Homo sapiens: one gene and its partner. The protein of the gene in region 1 interacts with the protein of each later gene in a biochemical or structural test. Each region holds a gene or a part of one and is shown on either strand. Other genes may lie near its edges.

Region 1 (3,500 bases):
CAGCTAGCTCTCTTGCTGAAAATGAGCAACATAAGTACATGAAAAACCCAACAAGTAGGATTTGAAAGCGGGGCTAATTGTACCCTTATTTCTTCTGGGGATAAAAGTCTTAAACTTTGTTTAAAGTAAAATGTTTTTATTTCTGACGGTGATTTGTTTCACTTAAATAGCTTGTTGTTTGTTTCTTTCATTTCTCTTAAGTTTTGGGTTGGGTTTGGTTTGTTTCCCGCAAGTTTTGCCCGTGCCGCCTTCCTCCTTGTGCCTGCAGGGACATTTGCTGGTGTGGCAGCCTCCAGGCCCGTCCCCAGCCTTTTTCTTGGCACACCTTCTCTAGGATGGCTGGGACAGTGACTTAGCTTCTACACCTGTGACTAACCATTTTCATTCCATTCTACAGCTTTGACAATTATTCTGCCAATGTTATGGTAGATGGAAAACCGGTGAATCTGGGCTTATGGGATACAGCTGGACAAGAAGATTATGACAGATTACGCCCCCTATCCTATCCGCAAACAGTAAGGATTGCAGCTGACTTTTAATGTGTCTTTTAGAGTATATAATTCTCGAGCGCTTAATTAGTGCATGTTACCTATGGACTTGCTTATATTGCCATCATTTGGGTATTGAGTAAATAGCAAACAGGGTGGGATTGGTTCCATGTAAACATCCCCCTAGATGCAAGCCCAGGGGTTTTGTGTTTTGAGCGTTACCAGCTGTTCCATTGTTGGGCATTTTACAGTCTTCCATTTAGCTTTAGAATAACCGTATGAAAGAGCTACTTTTTGTTTTTGCAAACCAGTTTTTAACACCAATTAGTTTGAAGGCAGGTTTGCTGTGTGACATTTTTGTACCACAGAATCAAATTAGGCAGTTAAGATTCAGGTTTCTTTAAACCAAGTTAGTAACTAATCTCACAGGTTTAATACATTTTTTCCCACAAAATACATAATTTGTATGGATTTTGTGAACCATACAATAGAACCTAAATTTATTCAATGTAGATTGAAGTTTTGGTTTTGTAAAATGTATCCACTGTGTCTAATCAGAAAAAAAAGTTTACTTTTGCTTCTGTATCAGACAACTAAGTGATTTATTTACCAAAGCTAATTAGAGCAGTAGCTGGTGAAAATGGGTACTTAGAAGACATTGTTGTCATTAAAAGTTACTTTTCTTTAAGCAGCGGTTTTACTTGTGTATCATTTGCTTATCTTGTTACATGTTTGTTCTTCATTTTTAAAAGTATCTTTGGAAGCAAAAGTTAAATATGCTTGAGATTCCTTGGGTTGATAACCTGTGTGCATGTCCTAGCTCTGTGACTTCAGGCAGGCTTCATCCTCTCTCCAGTCTTTGCCTGTTTCCTTGTAGGGTGAGATGAGTACGTGTCACGCACGCATAACAGTCCTGGGCACATAGCACACACTGTGGGGCCAGCCGCTGTCAGAATTCTCCTGTTCCTCAGTGTGCGGGTGGGTCGGCCTAAAGAGTGCTGCTTTCCACGTTGTGCCCAAATGAGTGGAAGTTGTGTGGTGCTCAGCACACCTGGGTTGGCCGGAGGGATTGGGGTTGGGGTTGGGTTGAGGTCAGGAAGACATCCTAGAGAAAGGCTGGCTTTGAGCCCTGATTGATGATGAGGCAGCCTGTGATTGATTCAACCAGTACTTCGTTGTAGGGGGTAATATGGGTGAAATAACTTAGTGGTTAAGTCTGCTGTATTAAAAATCAGTCTATAATCCCCAGACAATTCAAATTCTTCAGTATCTTAGGAAACTCTTCTATACCCAGTGGATGTTTAATAATTCAGATTGTAAATGGATTTAAAAACATACTGGCTGGTAGAGTAGGAGACTTCAGCCCACTGGACACATGTGGAAGGGTGTGGTGTCATTCTGAGAAACAAGAGCCACCCTGCTGTGACTCAGGGGGTACCGGGCAGGGTGAGGCCTCTCTAAGGAAGGCCTCACAGTAAGTCAAGGGTGACTTGGCAGGAGTCCCACTTTGTGTTCTGAGGAACACACAGATAAGGAAAGAGAACTCTCCTCAGCTTGAACAAAGCTGTAGAGTGTGACGCCTGGTATCAAAGTAGGTGTTGTCCTCATAGGGCTAGAACTTAAACTTCATGTTTCCTCTGTGTGAGACTGTGGACTGCTTTCCTATAAAATATTTGAGGAGCAAGGAGGGAGTGGGACATGGTTCTTGCCCTCAGGTAGTTCACAGAAAAGTCCCATAAACTGTGTAAGACACCCTGTGCTAGCAAGGGGGTGAGCCGGGCGCTTAAGGAGCAAGAGGGGCGAGCACCCACCCAGCAGTGGAAGCATTCCTGTCTGGACTCCTTCAGAGATAAGGAAATTATCTTGACAACTCAGGGGCAGGCCACAGATGCTCAGATACCAGTGTCTGGAAGGTCTCATCCCTTTGAGCCACACTGTCCTAAGAAGAACTGGATCTGGTAGTAACATGCTGGCACCTGGGTCTCTTGTTGATAAAGGGGAAACCTCTAAATTTTGTACTACATGGAATGTGGTCCCTGATTGCTGGCTCTGTGGTCTGCAGACCTGTTGATGTAGCTCATCCAAGACTGCTTAGACACTCTCCTGAAGGACCAGTTGGAAGATTTCTTATCTAGGGTGTCCTAAAAAGAGATGTTACATTTCTTGTGGTCATTTAACATTGGCATCCTCTCTATTGGGCAGCTCTGTCGGGCTAAGTCTGTTCAGACCATTCATTTCTTCTTCGTTCTCCAAAAGATGGTGAGCAGGTAGTCGCCATTCTTAGTTGAAATTGCCCTTCAGGTTTTTATTTCCCGAATTACGTAATCCTTACATTATTTTCTCTTGAAAATCTTTGCTAAGTTCTGCATACTCATCTTCAGTTGCTATGCACAGAATCAAGTCTTGTCAGAGTAACGCTCAAGTCCAGCATCTTCCCTTGTGTAGATCACCTGTATTTATTTGCCTGCTTGTACCAGCATTGGTGGTGTGAGTGGGAGCCTAAGTGACCTGTCAGTGTCACAGCGAGTCCTGAGCCCTGTGTGTGTCCTGAGACTCAGGCTGTGCAGCGGGTTCGCTGAGATGCTGAGCCTCCATGTTGGGGTCAGCCAGGACCCCAGTGCGTCATGCCAGTTGTTTCATTTTCTCTCTAGGCTAAAAGTTGTTGTTGTTGTTGTTGTTGTTTGAGACAGAGTTTCGCTCTTGTTGCCCAGGCTGGAGTGCAATGGTGTGATCTTGGCTCACTGCAACCTCCGCTTCCCAGGTTCAAGTGACTTTCCCGCCCTAGTCTCTCAAGTAGCTGGGACTACAGGCATGTGCTACCATGCCTGGCTAATTTTGTTTTGTATTTTATTTTTTTTGAGACGGAGTCTTGCTCTGTCGCCCAGGCTGGAGTGCAATGGTGCGATCTTGGCTCACTGCAAGCTTCACCTCCTGGGTTCACGCCATTCTCCTGCCTCAGCCTCCCAAGTAGCTGGGACTACAGGCGCCCGCCACCACACCTGACTAATTTTT
Region 2 (3,500 bases), on another chromosome or scaffold:
CGACCTGTGAGCTGATACTTTGTCACCTTACTGCTCTATTTTATTTTTCTCTCTTGAGATGCAGTGTGGTGCTGATAAAATGGCAGAAGCTTTGGAGTTGAATAGATGTGGGTTTGAATTCTGACTTCCATTGCCTGCCTCAGTAGCCTTGGGGTTTTCTCCTGTACCTTGAGAGGTGTGTGGAAATGATATATCTATAGAGGTGGCTGATGTGGTTCCTGGCACATAGTGCTAAACAAGTTGTAATGGTTTCAATTAATTGAGCACCTAATACTAGCAAAGTATCGTGATGAATGAAACACCGCTTAGCTGCTGACAGCTTACCAGAGAATCTGGGTGACAAGTAAAAATGCTTATACTTTTAGTGCCCTTCCAAGTTCTGTGGAAGAGAAGATATGAGAAGGATGGATTTGGATGGCGGCAATGGGAGGGCTTCATGAAAGTTGTGAATTTGAAATGACCTTGAGGAAGGTCAGAGGAAAACCTGAAAGGCGTGCTAGTATATTTGTACTGTGGAATCTTCTATTTATATAGGCAATAAAGGACAATTGGAGCTGTCCTGAGGAGAGTCACCTGATGCAACCCCTTACTGATGTACCTTCTTGTTCTTTGAGATGGTTTAAAAAAAGAAACACCCCAAACTTTTCATTAGAGACATGGGTGAGTGGCCCAGTGAAGTGAGTGACAGGGGAGGCAGGTGTGGCAAGACAGCGATGTGAGCATTTGGTGCCCTGTCTGCTGGCTGCTTAGCGGCCTCTTCACTGTGCTTCTGGGTTTGGCTGTCTTTTGGATGAACAGCTTTGCCAGAGGGTTTTGCCGAGGATAGGTGAATTCAATGAGAACAGGTAAGAAAATGAGTTGTACTTAGAGCAGGACAAGGATATTGACAACTGAATTCTCTAGGGGGTAGGGTTTCTCTCACCTCATTTTTCTTCATTCTCTCCATTAATTGTGGCAATGTTTACCTTTCAGATTTCACTGATTTACGGTCCTGCAATGTCCAGCATCCCAGTTTTATTGAAGAATGACTTAGACTGTGTTTCCAATTCATTGGCAATTGCCTGAGGAACTTTCATTTAGACTTTTTGTGGGATTTTACTAAGCTCTAATTGGACCTTCCTTTAATTTTATAATCGTGTATTGTGTATGACTTCTTCTTGCCAAGGTGCCTAAGAGGAGCTGACAGCTGTTTATTTAGTATATGCAGTGGTTTTCAAAGAGCAGTCTCTGGAGCAGCAGCAGCAGTAACAGCAGCGGAGCATCTCCTGAGAGCTTGTTGGAAAGGCAGATGCCCAGGCCCCACTCAGACCTGCCAAATCAGAAAGCCTGTGACGGGGTCTGCAGTCTGAGTTTTAATAGGCCCTCCAGGTGATTCTGATGCGCTAGAGCATCAGAAAGGTAAAGAGGCATTTCTGATATATAGTTACTCTTCACAGTGCTTGCAGGTTTTTGTCAAGTAAGTGAAAACACATGGGTATGTTATGGAACGCTTTATTTACAGTATCTCTTGGATGTTTGATTTGTAAACCACATGCTAACCAGGCCTTGATTACTTTACAGGTTCATGTTTATTTTATAGAATTAATTCTGCTATGACTTTAAGTTTGCTTTTCTTTCTTCTGGGAAACAAATGTGATTTGGAAGGTGCTGTAGTTTGAATGTATTCCCCAAAGTTCGTGTGTTGGAACGTAGTCCCCCATGCAGTAGTGTTGGGAGGTGGAGCCTAATGAGTGGTGATTAGGCCACCAGAGTTCTGCCCTCCTGAATGGGTTAATGTTATTGTGAGAGTGAGTTTGGTAAAAGGATGAGTTCAGCCTCCTTTTCTCTCTCTTTCACCCATGCGATGCCTTTTGCCATGTTACGGTGCAGTAAGAAGGCCCTCACCAGTTGCAGGCCCCTCAACCTTGGACATCCTAGCCTCCAGAACTGTGCGGAAACAAATTTCTGTTCATCATAAATGACCCAGTCTCAGGTATTCTGTTATAGCAGCACAAAACAGACTAAAACAAATGGAAAAGTTTAAAATCTCCACTGACTAGAGATAAAGCAAGGTTAGCTTCCCAGGGATTTCAGCTGGAAGTGAGGCTTATAGGAGCCATTGGGAAGGCTGAGTGAACGGGGAACCTTTTTGTGTAAGAAAGGGAACTCTAAGCCTGGAAATTCTGAGCTTCTAATCCCTGGGGGTGGCACATGGGGGGCTGGACAGTAAGAATTGATAGATGTCCTCCTTCTCCATTTTTTTTCTCTCCAGGACACCTTACAGTGTTATTCATTTATTCGTTTATTCATTCACAATTTTTAGAACTGTTGAATATGTTAGCAGAGATATTATTTGATAGACATAAGTGCACCCAGGTCATTCCCAAATTGCAGGGAAACTACCAATCTGTTTAATTTACTTTTGATAAAAGATAGGAGGACATTTTTATTGTTTATTGCTTGGGATCTCCCAAAAAGAAGATTTCTAATTGGTTGTTCTTTCTCTATTACTACTAAATCTCTGAAGGAAGACATTTTAATTTTTTTAAAAATTAGGGTGGTTTATTTCTTGATAATTTTTATTAAGAGATAGGATCTCACTATGTTGCTCAAGCTGGACTTGAACTCTTGGGCCCAAGAGATCCTCCCGCCTTAGCCTCCTGTGTAGCTGGGACTACAGGTGTGTACCACCATGCCTGACATAGTTCCTGATAATTTTGTCTCAGTTCTCATATTTTACTGGCAATATGAATTCAATCTTAAGTAATGTTAATGCATATCCTATAGTTGTCTCCAAATAAGTAGACTTGATTTGCATATAATTGAAGCAACATATATTTCACATACTTATGCCTAGATTCAGTATCTAGCCAGCAGCTTGGTATCCTGGCACTTAGAAGATACTCAGTAAATATTTGCTGTTATGACAGGTTTGCATAACATGTCTATACTGTATTGTTTGTCTAAATGAGGAATTTATTGTCTGTCTAATTAAAGATCATCTTGGCAGCTTTCAGATGCCATGCAAACATTAAATGTTGAGTTTAGATTTGCTTCCATCCCCTGTGGAACCTGGCAAGTTGTTTTAATTTCTCTGTGCCTCAGTTTCCTCATCTGTAAAATGTAAGTGGAAAATGCATCATCAAAGGATTAAATGATTTAATAGATGGAAACGTACATGCTCAAAGTGTGCTCCCATGGAGTCAACACCTAAAGGGCAGGGATGGTGATGGCAGAACCCCCCTCATTACTGCTGCCCCTTGGTCTGTATCCTTCTTTACCTGTATCCTTCTTTACCTGTATCCTTGTCTACCTCCTTGCCTGTTCTTTTTCACTTTAACAGAATGTGGATTTAAAATCCTAGCCCTATTTTCTTTTTTCTTTTCTTTTCTCTTTTTTTTTTTTTTTTTTTTTTTTTTTTTTGCGATGGAGTCTCACTGTGTCGCCTAGGCTGGAGTGCAGTGGCGCGATCTTGGCTCACTGCAACCTCCACCTCCCAGGTTCAAGCAATTCTCCTGTCT

What was found.
Region 2: the proteins of RAC1 (region 1) and IQGAP2 form a complex in vitro, tested with the Homo sapiens proteins (one study listed by BioGRID).

Annotation. Positions count from the first base shown.
Region 1 is NC_000007.14:6,391,527-6,395,026, forward strand, and holds part of RAC1 (ras-related C3 botulinum toxin substrate 1), read left to right. Parts: intron 1-397; coding exon 398-515; intron 516-3,500. UniProt on the Homo sapiens protein: Plasma membrane-associated small GTPase which cycles between active GTP-bound and inactive GDP-bound states.
Region 2 is NC_000005.10:76,409,785-76,413,284, forward strand, and holds part of IQGAP2 (ras GTPase-activating-like protein IQGAP2), read left to right. Parts: intron 1-3,500. UniProt on the Homo sapiens protein: Binds to activated CDC42 and RAC1 but does not seem to stimulate their GTPase activity. Associates with calmodulin.